Linked DNA regions of Homo sapiens: region 1 is linked to region 2. Evidence: fine-mapped expression QTL. Tissue or cell type: lung. Region 2 holds a variant in brackets; the other region holds the start of a gene. All regions are shown on one strand. Distances are between the middles of the regions.

The links. PIP is the estimated chance that this variant, and not a neighbour inherited with it, causes the effect.
Region 1: it holds the start of ABCC6, and the variant in region 2 is fine-mapped to the expression of ABCC6 in lung (TOPMed, PIP above 0.99).

Annotation. Positions count from the first base shown.
Region 1 is chr16:16,218,462-16,226,567 of GRCh38, reverse strand. ABCC6 (ATP binding cassette subfamily C member 6) reads left to right here and starts at 3,074. Exons shown (of 31, transcript NM_001171.6): 1 at 3,074-3,169; 2 at 4,737-4,919; 3 at 6,621-6,746; 4 at 6,886-7,014. The coding sequence starts at 3,134.
Region 2 is chr16:16,150,473-16,158,578 of GRCh38, reverse strand. ABCC6 (ATP binding cassette subfamily C member 6) reads left to right here. Exons shown (of 31, transcript NM_001171.6): 27 at 770-916; 28 at 3,548-3,706; 29 at 3,785-3,951; 30 at 7,807-8,001. Among named protein-coding and RNA genes, the nearest start is that of ABCC6, 69 kb to the left of the region's middle. RefSeq lists a silencer at 7,953-8,106. The variant C/T (reference allele first, on the strand shown) is at 3,755.

The sequences.
Region 1 (8,106 bases), 68 kb before region 2:
AATATCACAGGGTGTACACCCACTGTGATATTAGAGGAAATAATATCTTCCCAGGATATAATGAATAATATTACAGGGTGTACACCCACTGTGATATTAGAGGGATTAATATCTTCCCAGGATATAATGAATAATATCACAGGGTGTACACCCACTGTGATATTAGAGGAATTAATATCTCCCCAAAATATAATGAATAATATTACAGAATGTTCACCCACTGTGATATTAGGAATAATAATACCTCCCCAGGATATAACCAATAATATCACAGGGTGTACACCCACTGTGCTATTAGGAGTAATAATATCTCCCCAGGATATTACAAATAATATTACAGGATGTACACCCACTGTGACAATATGGGTAATATCTCCCAGGATATTATGAATAATATCACAGGGTATACACTTACTGTGATATTAGGAGTAATAATATCTCCCCAGGATATAATGAATAGTATCACAAGGCGTACAGCCACTGTGATACTAGGAGTAATATAGTAGTATCTCCCCAGGATATAACAAATAATATCACAAGGTGTACATGCACTGTGATATTAAAGGAAATAATATCTCTTCAGGATATAATGAATAATATCACAAAGTATACACCCACTGTGATATTAGGGGTAATATTATATCTCCAAGATATAGTGAATAATATCACAGGGGGTACACCCACAGTATATTAGGGGTAATAGTATATCCCCAGAATATAACGAATAATATCACAGGGTGTACACCCACCGTGACAATATGGATAATATCTTCCAGGATGTTACGAATAGTATCAAAGAGTATACACCCACTGTGATATTAGGGGCAATATCTCCACAGAATATTACAAATAATATCAAAAGATGTACACGCACTGTGACATTAGGGGTAATATCACCCAAAAATATTACAAATAATATCACAGCATGTACACAATGGTGTACGTTCATTGTGATATTATGATATCCATAGGGTATTACAAATAATAGCACAGGGTGTACCCCCACTGTGATATTAGGAGTCATATCTTTCTGGGAGGTCACAGCGTGTACACGCATGGTGTAAATTCACTGGGATATTAGGAGTAATATCGCCCTAGAATATTTCGAATCATATCACAGGGTGTACACCCACTGTGATATTAAAAGGAATATCTTTCTAGAACATTACAAATAGTATCACAAGGTGTACACCCACTATGAGATTAGGAGTAACATCTCCCTAGAATATTATGAATAATATCACAGTGTGTACAGGCACTGTGATTTTAGGAGTACTACCTTCTTAAGATATTATGAATAATATCATAGGGTATACACCCACTGTGAAATTAAAAGCAATAGCTCCCTACGATATTACGAATAATATCACGCAGTGTACACTCAAGGTGATATTAGGAGTAGTATCTCCCTAGGAAATTACGAATATTATCACAGAGTGTACACCCACTGTGATATTGAAAGTATTATCTTTCTAGGATATTATGAATAATATTACAGGGTGTACTCCCTCTGTGATATTAGGAGTTATATCTCCCTAGGATATTACAAATCATATCACAGGGTGTACACCCACTGTGGTATTAGGTGTAGTATCTCCCTAGGATATAACAAATAATATCACAGGGTATACACCTACGGTTATATCAGGAGTTATATCTTCATAGAATATTATGAATAATATCACAGGGTGTACACCCTCTGTGATATTAAAAGTAATATCTTTCTAGGATAGTATGAATAATATCACAGGGTGTACTCTCACTGTGATATTAGCGGTAATAACTCCCTAGGATATCACGAATTCTATGACAGAGTGTACACCCACCATGAGATTTGGAGTAATATATCTCTAGCATATTATGAATAATATCACAGGTTGTACACCTACTGTGATATTAGGAGTAAAATCTCCCTCGGATATTACAAATAATATCACAGTGTGTACTCCCACTGTGATATTAGGAGTAAAATCTCCTTCAGATATTACGAATAATATCACAGGATGTACACCCACTGTGATATTAGGAGTAATATCTCCCTTGGATATTTCTAATAATACCACAGCGTTTACACACATGGTGTTCACCCACTGGGATGTTAGGATAATATCTCCCTTGGATATTACCAATCGTATCAGAGGCTGTACACACGTGGTGTTCACCCAGCGTGATATTAGGAATAATATCTCCCTCGGATATTAGGAACAGTCTCTCCCTGGGACTTAGCAGAACGTAGCCCCCCAGTGTTAAATAAGCGACCACAGCAAGAGGTAGAGGCGCAGGGACTGAAATGAAGACAAATATCTGACAAGTTTAAAACACGTATTTAAAATAGAATTTATAAAATGCTTAATCTGCCGACTCAGGAGCCCGCGGTGCAGGGTGGGGTGGGAGTTGGCAGGTGACCGCTACACCAGCAGAGTAAGACTGCAGGGCTGCGGCCCTCCCTCCTATGCCCTTCTGTTCAGACACCCGAGGGGCCCATGTGCACTCCTGGGATCATACGACCAGAAAACAGGACCCTAGAGGTTTCTTGAGTTTCTGCTTACCAGGGCGGCTGGGTATAGCCCTGCCAGCCCATTGCATAATCTTCTAAGTTCTCCCCACCACCCTCCATTCCAGCAGCGAGGTGCCTGTGACGCGGTCTCCATCCTCTCGGCCTCGACCCGGTGGTCCCCGCGATTGGACGCTTAGGCGGTCACCAGGCCTCCTTGTTACTAACGTGTGCACACCTTTCAGTTCTCTCATCAGGATGAACTCCTGGAAATTGCTGGGTCCAAAGTGTTTAGGAAGTCTGGAGTGATTCTTGTTGCAGGGGGAAGAGGGAACTATGGAGGTGTCACTGAACTTTCAGGGGTTCCGGGACCCCCCAACCCGGTGCCCGTCCCAGCTCCCCGAGCGCCTCTCTTCCCCCATCCCCCACCTCGCCTGTTTTCACCTCCCGTGGCCTCACTCCCGCCGCGCAGCTGGACCTTGCCCGGGGCCTCCCGATCCCGGAGCTCGAATCCCAGCCGGACCAGCCCAGCCCGACCAGCCCAGCCCCGCCTCTTCTCCGGCAGGATCGCGGCCGAGCAGTCTGCCCAGAGACTTAGCGACAGACAGACGCTGGGACCCACGACGACAGAAGGCGCCGATGGCCGCGCCTGCTGAGCCCTGCGCGGGGCAGGGGGTGAGTGCCCCCCATCGCGCCCCACTCTCCTTTTCCAGGCTTGGTTTGGCTGCAGATCTCTCGGGCTGCGATACTGGGGAGAGGAGAGACCCCCAAATTCCTGGACCCGGGAAGCGAGGAGACTTACTCCGGCCCCCTCACTGCAGCGGGTTGGATTTCTTTCACCAAGCCAGCAGCCGAGAGCCCAGCTCTATTTAAGGGGCCACCAGACCTCCCAGCTACTAGGGGCTTTGACTCTTCTTTGCATAAAGCTAGTGGGTCCCCCAAGCCCTCCTACCCCCGGAGAGCCCTTACCTCTCTGGTTTCTTTTTCCATTGCTCTTAGCAAAGGACTCCAGGGAGTGGAGTTCATGGAGTGGGGGTGGGGGTTGCAAACTGCCAGCATTTCGAGGGCCAGGGAGTTGAAGCAATAAACTGGCAATGAACTGAGGGCTTTCTCTGTGCCTAGCCTTGTGCCCAACCTTGTGCCATGCTGCTATGAACTTTGCTGCTATTAATCCATTTAATACAACTCATAGAGGTAGAGTCTCGTTTTCCCCCTTTTACAGGGAAGGAAACTGAGATACAGAGAGGTTAAAGTTTGCACAGCCGGTGAGTTGTGAAACCAGGAGGAGTAAAAAGACAGCGGAGAGAGAATTGAAGAGGCCACGTCCACTAAACTTCAAATTTCTTCTAGGGTTAGATAGGACCAGCAGACCTGCTGAGATGAAAATAACAGATCAAGCTGGGCCGGTGGCTCTTGCCTGTAATCCCAGTACCTAGGAGGCTGAGGCAGGAGGATTGCTTGAGACCAGGAGTTCGAGACCAGCATAGAGAGACCCCCATCTCTACAAAACATAAAAAAAAAAAATTAGCCAGGCCTGGTGAGGCTGCTTATGCCTGTAATCCCAGCACTCTGGGAGGCCGAGGTGGGAGGATTGCTTGAGCCCAGGAAATTCGAAGCTTTGTTGAGCTTTGATTGTGCCACTTCAGCCTGGGCAACAGAGTGAGACCCTGTCTCTAAAACATAAATTAATTAATAATAAAAAATAAAAACAAATCATACATCAAGACCACCAGTCGAACGAGGTTTGGGGTCAGATAAGCCTGGGTCAGAGTCAGCTTTGCCACTTCCCATTTGTGTGTCCCTGGGGGAGGCAGTTCCCCGACTGGTGCCTCAGTCTGCTGGTTTCTGAAATGGAGACAGTACTGTCTGCGTCCTGGAGTTGTTATAAGGATTAACTGACAGTCCATGCCTAGCAATGATTATGGAGCCCAGGTCTCCTAGACCACATGGCCCAGTTCCCTGGGTTCAAATCCCAGCCCTTCCACTCCTCAGCTGGGTAAAGTCAGCAAAGTTACTCAACCTCTCTGGTCCTCAGCTTCTTCATCTGCAAATCAATATAATTGCAACTACCTAGGGTTAATGTCAGGATGAAAGGAATTGAGAATTAGTAGGTATTCCAAAGAGTACTTGGTACATTTTTGTGTAAATGTTAAAGATCCAAAAAGTTGCCTGGCCCCCTGGGCAGGTGAGCTGGGGACCCCTGCCTTGTACCATCCTAAGGGTCCTCTTTGTGTTCCCTCAGGTCTGGAACCAGACAGAGCCTGAACCTGCCGCCACCAGCCTGCTGAGCCTGTGCTTCCTGAGAACAGCAGGGGTCTGGGTACCCCCCATGTACCTCTGGGTCCTTGGTCCCATCTACCTCCTCTTCATCCACCACCATGGCCGGGGCTACCTCCGGATGTCCCCACTCTTCAAAGCCAAGATGGTAGCTGCCATCCCTGGGAGCCTGGAACCAGGCAATGTTCGGGGGAGGCAGGGGACAGGCTGGAACCTGGTGAAGTCTTAAAGTAGACTCCTCCTATCGGGGTGTAGAAGGGAATCTGTTAATCAAACAGAGCAATATTAGAAAGGCTACAGAGGTCAACTCAGTGGAACACGGTTCTCCCAAACAGATTTTGTAATTCCGAAAATCCACGCATGCGCAAACATACGCATACACTCCCATGTTCCTGGACAGTTTATAGCTACCATAACCTGGCATTTTCCAAAACATACCATGTAGACTCTTGGATACACAAGGTAATTTTAGAGCCACATTAGGATGAACCTTTTAAAAAGTTATGCATTTATTTTTATGTTCCCCCACTGGCTGTATTATAGGACAATTTTTATATGTGATATGTATTTACCTTAGTGTGTTAAATAAACACTGGCATTCCAAGTGTGAGCCTTTCTGCTCATCCATCCTCTTCTACTCCATTCTTGTAGGCTTCCAAAGAATGTTCTTCAGAGTTCATTCATTCTTCTGCCATTGTATTAATTTTTACATTATCACCCGCCACCAACCCAGGGGTTGGCAAACTTAAAGAGCCAAGCGGTACACAGTATTTGAGACTTTGTGAGCCAGGTAATCTTCCTTCCGAACACTGAACTCTGCCATTCCAGAATGAACGCAATAGTCATAACCATAGACAATAGTCATGACTGTGTTACTTTTTTGTTTGTTTTTTTTTTTTGAGATGCAGTTTTGCTCTTGTTACCCAGGCTGGAGTGCAATGGTGCGATCTCGGCTCACTGCAACCTCCGCCTCCTGGGTTCAAGTGATTCTCCTGCCTCAGCTTCCCGAGTAGCTGGGATTACAGGTGCCCACCCCCACACCTCGCTATTTTTTTGTATTTTTAGTAGAAACAGGGTTTCGCCATGTTGGCCAGGCTGGTCTCCAACTCCTGACCTCAGGTGATCTGCCTGCCTTGGCCTGCCAAAGTGCTGGGATTACAGGTGTAAGCCACCACCCCCGGCCGACTGCGTTTCAATAAAACTTTATTTGTAGTCACTGAAATTTGGATTTCATGTAATTTTCACCTGTCATGACATATGCTTTTTGTTTTTCTTTGATGATTGATAGTTTGCCAACTTCTGCTTTAAACTGAGGTTCTTTGAGCAGTTCCTCCAACGTAACCTAGCTCTGGCCTTCCCTCTGGTGTGCCCACGTTCTCTCATTTTCTTCCTTTCTTTTATTCAATAGAGAAACCAAAATATATTAGAGAGACCCTAGAGACTTACTGGCCCAACAGAGAGTTGCTCCTTGATTTCATAGCAGGGATTGAAAAATGACTTGGAGAAAGGATAGTTTTTTACCTGGTGAGTACATTTCATTTCCTGCTGTTTCTCCATACCCACAGTCATCTCATATGTGCACGATTGGAGCACTTCCTGCATTTTGGAAAACACTCGGTTGGCTCAAGCCCTTCCTGTGCATTATTTATATGACAGTTACAGGTCAGGAGTGATCTGCAATGCCCTTTACACATTGTTCACATTGGCACGTTGCTAGCTGGTGACCCTGGTATACTCAGTATCAGCCAGGATGTTGCAGAACCAGCTCCCAGTTGGACATGGGGCCGCCTACCAGTTTGCTGTGACCTCTCTTATTGCCCCCCAAGCTTATCTAAGCCTGTATCCTCAGGTGCTTGGATTCGCCCTCATAGTCCTGTGTACCTCCAGCGTGGCTGTCGCTCTTTGGAAAATCCAACAGGGAACGCCTGAGGCCCCAGAATTCCTCATTCATCCTACTGTGTGGCTCACCACGATGGTAATGATGCCTTCAGTCTGGAGCCCGGCTTCCTCCCAGCTGCTGCTTTGCCTGCCACAGTGGAGAACAAGGGGAAGAGAAGAGGCTCCCCTCAGCCTCCCACCCTCCCCTAAGGGGCCTCCCTGACTTTCCCGTCCAGAGCTTCGCAGTGTTCCTGATTCACACCGAGAGGAAAAAGGGAGTCCAGTCATCTGGAGTGCTGTTTGGTTACTGGCTTCTCTGCTTTGTCTTGCCAGCTACCAACGCTGCCCAGCAGGCCTCCGGAGCGGTAAGTCGGGGCGTGGGCCACCCTGGGAAACCAAAATGGTGGCTCATGCCTTGGGTCCCTTCCTTTCTCCTCCTGTTTCCACATACAACTTATTCTCTATACAGTGACACACACAAGCCAGTCACTTACACTCTAGAGACACAAAATCCACTCCCGCACCTGTCAGTACCCATCATCCCATACATTTCTTATCAACACAATTTCCTGTCTTACAGGCCCACATCACACGTGCCACTTGCACACGATGCACACACTTATAGGCACTGATTCATACATCGCACAAGTACATGCATGCACGCACACACACACAACCTGGGCACAGACACACCTGTGTGCACACATACCCCTCCGTGCACACCTCCCCTCATGTCATGGATTCACCCTCCCCATGTTCCTATGCACCTATATTTACACACTCATTCTGCACACCACTCGTATTTCTGTTGCCCAATCTGGGAAGCAGCTTTTTTTTTTTTTTTTTTTTTTTTTTTTTTGAGAGGCTTGCTCTGTCGCCCAGACTGGAATGAAGTGGCATGATCTCAGCTCACTGCAATTTCTGCCTCTCGGGTTCAAGCACTTCTCCTGCCTCTGCTTCCTGTGTAGCTGGGATTACAGGTGTGTGCCACTACACCTGGCTTATTCTAAATTTCTACTAAATTTCTACTAAAAATTTCTACTAAATTTCTACTAAAAATTTTTGTATTTTTAGTAGAGACGAGGTTTCACCATGTTGGCCAGGCTGGTCTCGAGCTCCTGACCTCAAGTGATCCACCTGCCTTGGCCTCCCAAAGTGTCGGGATTACAGGCGTGAGCTCTTGTCATTCGGCCGGAAGCAGCGTTTCTCTATTAGGAGACATGATGGGTCATTTTCTCTGTAAAGAGAAAAACATGTAGCCTAGACCAACTTCCCTCAGCCTCAGCTTTAGTAATGTTGTGGCCAGACAATTCTTTGTTGGGTGGACAGGGCTGTCTTGTTTGCTGCAGGGTGTGAAACAGCATCCCTGGCTTCTGCCCATAGGTGCCAGTAGCATACCATCCAATTGCAGTAACCCAAAATGTCTCCAGATATTACCAAGTGTCCCTGGGGGTGAG
Region 2 (8,106 bases):
ACAGTAACAGAACAAGGAAGAATTAATTAGTTGATGAATAGGGTAGAAGAAATGGTGAGAGATGGACAGATGAATGGATGGAATGGGATGGAAGAATGAGAGATGGAGGGATGGGATTGGAGATGGATGGATGGATGCATGGATGGATGGATGGGTGGGATGGGGTGGATAAAGGATAAGAGATGGATGGATGAATGGATGGATGGGATTGGGTGGAAGAAAGGATAAGAACAGCAGCATAGCACTAATGTAACAGTAACATAACAGCGTTGAGTTTACTGGGAGGATCAAATGAGATCCTGCAAAGAAATGATTTAATAGAGTGCCTGGTCCATTGCAAACACTCAATACATGTCTGCTGCTCTTATTAGCCCTATTTCCCAGATTGGAAAACCAAGACTCAAGGGGGTAGAATGATCTGTTCAAGGTCACGGGAACAGCAAAGGCAGTATTGGTCTTCCCACTGCACAGTCATGTCCTTTCACAAAGACAAAGAGAAATGTCTGCTCCCACTATAGAAAAAGAGATTATTTTATAATAAACAGTGGCTAATAATAACAATAAAATAGACTAAAAGTAGCCACCACCATCTGTTTTTAGCATTGACATAGTCCATGCCCTCTCTTGTTGAATTCCCATAACAACCCTGTAAAACAGCAATAAATACGTCCATTTTGCGGAAGAGAAAACTGAAGCTGATAGAGGTGGGCCATCTTGTGTGAAGTCTTAGAGGAAGGCTCCTCTGACTCAGTTTCCCCTCCTGCTCCAGGCTCCCTGGAGGCTGCCCACATGTGCAGCTCAGCCCCCCTGGCCTCAGGGCGGGCAGATCGAGTTCCGGGACTTTGGGCTAAGATACCGACCTGAGCTCCCGCTGGCTGTGCAGGGCGTGTCCTTCAAGATCCACGCAGGAGAGAAGGTGAGTGGTTCTCTCACAATGTCTTCTTCATGGAGTTTAGGCCAAAGGACTCCAGGGACAAGGCCCTAAACCCTGGGCACCAGCCACCTCCACAGTGTCCCCACCTCAGGTCCCCTAGCTTTCAGACCCATTACCCCCTAAAATGAACTCCTCACCTTCCCCAAACCTGCTTCCATCTGGTGACTTCCTCATCCACCTTGGTGTCCCCAGATGAGGAAGCAACTCCGTGACTTCCTTCTTCCTTTAACATTAACCCAGCACCTAATATGTGCTGGGCAGTGTGTTAAATGCTCCAGGTACATTTTCCAGTTTGCACAAATGGGATATTTGCTTTCAGCTGGGAGACATTGGGAAAAGCACTTCATAGCTCAGTCTCAGTTTTCCCATCTGTAAATTGGGACTGGTAATACTGATCTCTGAGTTGTTGTGAAGTTTGAGTTAATACATAGAACATGCTTAGCTCATAGAAAGTGCTCCAGAAATGTTTACTAATGCTTTTATTATTTGCGTTTTCACTCTCACAACAACCCCTAAGTGAGGTGCTAGTACTATCCCATTTTACAGATGCCTCATCAGGCCCCTTCACTGAATCCCTTTCCTCCCTCCCTCTGAACCTACAGAGGCTTCCTCCCTGTCCTCTCCTTGTCCCCTAAAAAGCAGTGGATCCTGTCTCACCAGCTCCAATCTGCTCTCCTGTGATTTTTTTTTTTTTTTTTTTTTGAGACAGAGTCTCACTCTGTTGCCCAGGCTGGAGTGCAGTGGTGTGACCTTAGATCACTGCAACCTCCGCCTCCCAGATTCAAGTGATTCTCCTGCCTCAGCCTCCTGAGTAGCTGGGATTACAGGCACCTGCCACCACACCCGGCTAATTTTTGTATTTTTAGTAGAGACAGGGTTTCACCATGTTGGCCAGGCTGCTATGAAACTTCTGACCTCAATCACCCCCCTCGGCCTCCCAAAGTGCTGGGACTACAGGCATGACCCACCATGCCCAGCCATCCTGTGACCTTTATCAGCATGAATGACACTGCATGTCATTCCCCTGCTCAAAACCTTCTACTAGTTCCAGCTTCCCTTGGGGTAAAGTGTGAATTCCTGAGCTTGGCATTCAAGGCTCTACCCAACCCAGGCCCTGCCAACCTCCCCCTCTCATTCATTGCTCTGCCAGGGCTTAGCCAACATTGTGGAGCAGCTGCCTCTCGGCCAGGGGGGCACATGGTGCTGTGAGCTCCATGAGCTTCTAGTTTTGGAAACCCACTTGGTGTGGTTTACCTGGAGTGTTCCCCTTCCTTGAACTCCTATTGATCCTTCAAGCTTCCATGCAAGTATCCCTTCCTCCATGAGGTCTTCTCTTATTACCTCTGTCAAATCCCAGGCAGCATGAGCAGCACTGCCTTGCTTCCCTTAATTGCCAGAGGTCCAGACCTTGATAATAAACAGCATTGTTGGCTGGGTGCTGTGGCTTATACCTGTAATCCCAGCACTTTAGGAGGCCAAGGTGGGCAGATCACTTGAGGCCAGAAGTTTGAGACCAGCCTGGCCAACATGGTGAAATCCCGTGTCTACTAAAAATACAAAAATTAGCCGAGCATGGTGACAGGCACCTGCAGTCCCAGCTACTAGGGAGGCTGAGGCAGGAGAATTGCTTGAACCTGGGAGGTGGAGGTTGCAGTGAGCTGAGATCGCACCACTGCACTCCAGCCTGGGCAATAGAGCAAGACTTTATCTCAAAAATAAATAAATAAATAAATAAATAAAGCATTGTTCATCACACTGTATTACATTTACTCAATTGCACTGTTTCCTAGACCGGATGATGGGCACACTGGAGCAAGGACTCTTTAATTTCTATACTTCCGGTGCCTAAACAGGTACTTGGCATACAGTGGGGTGACCCACATGTTTCCATCATTAATTAAACAAATAATGTTGAACCCACACCATGTGTCAGACACTGAGGATGCAATAGTAGCAAGAGAGATAAGGATGGAGGGTGGATAACAGCATGGGAGATGGATAACAGAATGGACACATGGATAAGATGGAGGATGAATGGAAGGATGGATGAGGGAAGGATGGACTGGATGGATGGATGGGAGAAAATAAATGAATGAAAGGATTAGTGAATTGATGGATGAATAGGGAAGAAGAAACGAGAGACGGATAGACAGATGAATGGATGGATGAATGGAATGGGGTGGAAGAGAGATGGAGGGATGGGATTGAGGATGGATGATGGATGGATGGATGGCAGGATGGGGTGGAAAAAAGGATAAGGGATGGATGGACGGACAGACAGATGGATGGGATGGGGTAGAAAAAAGGATGAGAGATGATGGAGAGGTGTAAATAGAAGGATGAGGAAAGATGGAGGAACTAAAGGAAGGGTGGGGAGAAAGATGGGAGAGAGATATCAGGATAAGGGAAAGATAGAGAAGAACACAGATGGAAGACTGGATGGATTGATGGGTGGATATATAGAAAGGTAGACAGATGGAAAGAGAGATGGAAGGTAGACCTTTACACAATGAGGGATGGATAGACAGATCTCGGGTACAGCAGAAAGATCTCCCCAATAAATGCCCACAAACCCTCTGGTCAGAGCAGGCCTTTCCTCCCAACCCCGGGCAGGTGGGCATCGTTGGCAGGACCGGGGCAGGGAAGTCCTCCCTGGCCAGTGGGCTGCTGCGGCTCCAGGAGGCAGCTGAGGGTGGGATCTGGATCGACGGGGTCCCCATTGCCCACGTGGGGCTGCACACACTGCGCTCCAGGATCAGCATCATCCCCCAGGTGAGGCTGGTGGAGGGGGTGGGCAAAGATGGGAGGCATGGTGGGACC[C/T]GGCTCTGACCCACCGCCCCTCCCCGCCAGGACCCCATCCTGTTCCCTGGCTCTCTGCGGATGAACCTCGACCTGCTGCAGGAGCACTCGGACGAGGCTATCTGGGCAGCCCTGGAGACGGTGCAGCTCAAAGCCTTGGTGGCCAGCCTGCCCGGCCAGCTGCAGTACAAGTGTGCTGACCGAGGCGAGGACCTGAGGTATGGTCGTCCCACCATGGCTGGGACCTGCAGGTGGGAGAGGAGGGGATGGCCATGCCCTCCCCAAGGGCCTTCAGGAAATGCCTCCCCCGATAGGATTATCACTCTGTTACATTAATAACCACATGTCTCTTATCTGCAATTCCAAGCTCTGACACAGTCTCTGAATACCAAGGTTTTCCCCCCTAAATTAGCAGTTAGTCTTCTATATTTACTTGGTGGCAAAACCCAACCTCAACTGACACAGGGCTACTGATAGCCTTTATTGCTCTTGCTCAGTATTTATTTTGCTATGAAAATATTGTTTGATATCGGGTGGTAACCTCACCACTCACTGGGACTATAATATAGGATTTTTTTTTTTGGTAAATGTCAAGTGTGGACTGGGCACAGTGGCTCATGCCTGTAATCCCAGCACTTCAGGAGGCTGAGAGAGGAGGATTGCTTGAGCCCAGGAGTTCGAGACTAGTCTGGGCAACATAGCAAGACCCTATCTCTGTGGACAACAGTATTAGCCAGGTATGGTGGCATGCACCTGTAGTCCTAGTTACTTGGGAGGCTGAGGTGGGAAGAACGCTTGAGCCAGGGAGGCGAAGGTTGCAGTGAGCCGATATTGCACCACTGCACTCCATCCTGGGCTTCGTCTCAACAACAAAAAGCTGTGTGGAAAGATACACATAAAATTTACTATCTCAACCTTTTTTTTTTTTTTTCTTTTTCTTTGGAGACAGGGTCTGGCTCTGTCATTCAGGCTAGAGTGCAGTGGTGAGGTCAAGGCTCGCTGCAACCTCCACCTCCCAGGCTCAAGCATTCCTCCCACCTCAGCCTCCCGAGTAGCTGGGGTTACAGGTGTGAGCCACCAGGGCCAGGTAATCTTTTTATTTTTTGTAGAGACAGGGTTTCACCATGTTGCCCAGGCTACAGTCGAACTTGCGTAGGCCTCCCAAAGTGCTGGGATTACAGGTGTGAGCAGCCACGCCGGGCCCATCTCACCCATTTTTCAGTGTATAGTTTCTGTAGTGTTAGGTACATTCACACTGTTACACAACAGAACTACAACTCTGTACCCATGAAACCCTAACTCTCCTTGTCCCCTCCCCCAGCGCCCAGCCACCAGCATTCTCCTGTCTCTCTGAGTGTGACTACTCTAGACACTGCATAGACGCAGAATCATAGGATCTGTCCTTTTGTGACTGGCTTATTTCACACAGCATGATGTCTTCAAGGGTCATCCACATCGTAGCATGTGTCAGATTCTCTACCTTTTTAAGGCCGAATAATTTTCCACTACATGGATAGACCACATTTTGCTTATCCGTTTATCTGCCAGTAGATACCCAGGCTGTTTCCACCTCTTGGCCGTTTTGAATAATGCCACTATGAACATAGGTGTATAGGTATATGCCTTTAGAAAAACCAAAGTGGCTGGGCGCGGTGGCTCATGCCTGTAATCCTAGCACTATGGGAGGCCGAGGCGGGTGGATCACCTGAGGTCAGGAGTTCAAGACCAGCCTGACCAATATGGTGAAGCCCCGTCTCTACTAAAAATACAAAAATTAGCTGGGTGTGGCGGCAGGCGCCTGTAATCCCAGTTACGTGGGAGGCTAAGACACTGAGACAGGAGAATCGCTTGAACCCGGGAGGCAGAGGTTTCAGTGAGCCAAGATTGTGCCACTGCACTCCAGCCTGGGTGACAGAGTAAGACTCCGTCTCAAAAAAAACAAAAAAAAACCTAAGGTGTTCTGGATTTATAAACCCCTCTGACCCTGAGGGTGTCCGAAGGGCTTGTGGTAGGCAATAATTTCCAGCACTAGAGAGGCAGCGTTGCTTGGTGGGTAAGAGTATACACAGGTGACAGACTGCCTGGGCTCAAATCCAGGCCCCCCACCCCACACCCCCACCCCCGCCCCGCCCTGCCACTTACTAGCTGTAGGATCTTAGGCAACTTATCTTGTGTGCCTCAGTTTCCTCATCTGTAAGGTGGGAATAATAGCACCTACCTACCTTGCAAGGATTGAATTATATGCACAAAGTTGTTGAAACAGTGGCAGGCATAGAGCAAAGAGTAAATACTCATTTTAGTCCTGAGTCACACTCCTGATAACATCATTTCACAGAGTTGGAATTGGAGGCCTGGGGCTTGCCTGACGTCACACAGCTTAAAAGTAGTGAGGTTGGGACAAGACCCAGGCACTCTAACGCCTGCATGACCATAGTAGGTTCTGATCATGTAAAAGGATGCTGTTTCATGGAAGGGCTTACTGTGCAAGACAGCCATGCTGGGGCCCCAGGGGTCAGTTCCCACCTGGGTCAGGGGCTCACTGGGCTCACAACCTGGAATCTCAACTCCTCCACCCTCCACGAAGGGTGCTACTCCATGCCAAGGGCTTATTCTGTGACAAGCCTACACACTTTTTTTTTTTTTTTTTTTTTTTGAGACAGAGTCTTGCTCTGTCGCCCAGGCTGGAGTGCAGTGGCGCGATCTTGGCTCACTTGCAAGCTCTGCCTCCCGGGTTCACACCATTCTTCTGCCTCAGCCTCCTGAGTACCTGGGACTACAAGCGCCCGCCACCACGCCCGGCTAATTTTTTGTATTTTTAGTACATACAGGGTTTCACCGTGTTAGCCAGGATGGTCTCGATCTCCTGATCTCGTGATCCGCCCACCTCAGCCTCCCAAAGTGCTGGGATTACAGGTGTGAGCCGCCGTGCCCCGCCACCCACACACTTTTATGTGCCATGTCGTCACGATTCAGCGAGGACGGATCCATTAGGAGCACAGACTCTGGGGTCAGAGGACTTGGGTTCAAATTATGGACCCACCACTAGCCTTGAGACCTTGGTCAAGCCACTGAGCTTCTCTGTATCTGTGTCCTCTTCTCTCAAAAGAAGAGAACAATAATATCTACCTTGGTGGACATTATGAGGATTGAGTGAATATATACAAGCACTTAGAATGTGTTTGGCACAAGGTGGAAACTAGAAATAGAACTGGACATAGCCATAAACAGGCCAGGCACGGTGGATCACGCCTGGAATCCCACCCAGGTGTTGTACACATCTGTATTTAAGGCCCACGTGACACCAGCCTTGAATGTCTTAGGAAGACTGTAGATTTGATTCTTGAAGCAGCAGTCAGTCATTGTAGGTTTGTTTGCAACGGCATGACTGAAGTGAAAGCTGTGCTTTCGCTGTTGGGGGAAATATAAATTAGTACAGTCACTATGGAAAATAGTATGATGATTTCTCAAAAAACAAACTAGAAATAGAACTACCGGGGCGCAGTGGCTCACGCCTGTAATCCCAGCACTTTGGGAGGCTGAGGTAGGTGGATCACCTGAGAGTTTCAAACAAGTCGGACCAACATGGTGAAACCCCATCTCTACTTTAAAAATACAAAAGCCAGGCATGGTGGCGCATGACTGTAATTCCAGCTACTTGGGAGGCTGAGGCAGGAAAACTGCTTGAACCGGGAGGCAGAAGTTGCAGCGAGCTGAGATTGTGCCATTGCACGCCAGCCTGGGTGGCAGAGCAAGACTCCGTCTCAAAAAAAAAAAGAAAAACGAAGAAGAAAAAAAGAGCCATAAACAGAAAAAAGAAAATAGCCATTTCACAGGTGGGGAAACTGAGGCACAAAGGGTTTGAATGACCTGCCTACAGTCAGCCTGCTCAAAGATGGCAGGAACAGGCTTCCTATCAGTTCTGCAGACCACAGACCCCAGACCCCATGTGTGGGGATGCCTGAACACAGGCACCTCACTCCTGCACTGCTTCAGGGACCTGTTTCTGGGCACACCCACACATCACCATGTGCCGACAAACGCACGTCCCAGCTAATTGTCCCAATCGTTCCCAGCGTGGGCCAGAAACAGCTCCTGTGTCTGGCACGTGCCCTTCTCCGGAAGACCCAGATCCTCATCCTGGACGAGGCTACTGCTGCCGTGGACCCTGGCACGGAGCTGCAGATGCAGGCCATGCTCGGGAGCTGGTTTGCACAGTGCACTGTGCTGCTCATTGCCCACCGCCTGCGCTCCGTGATGGACTGTGCCCGGTAAGGCTCCCGCCCCGGCCTGACCTCACAGCAGCCCTGCAGTGGTGGGGGAAGGAGGCGGAGGCAGTCCTGGGCCACTGGGCTTCGGGTTAGAGCTGGAGGGGT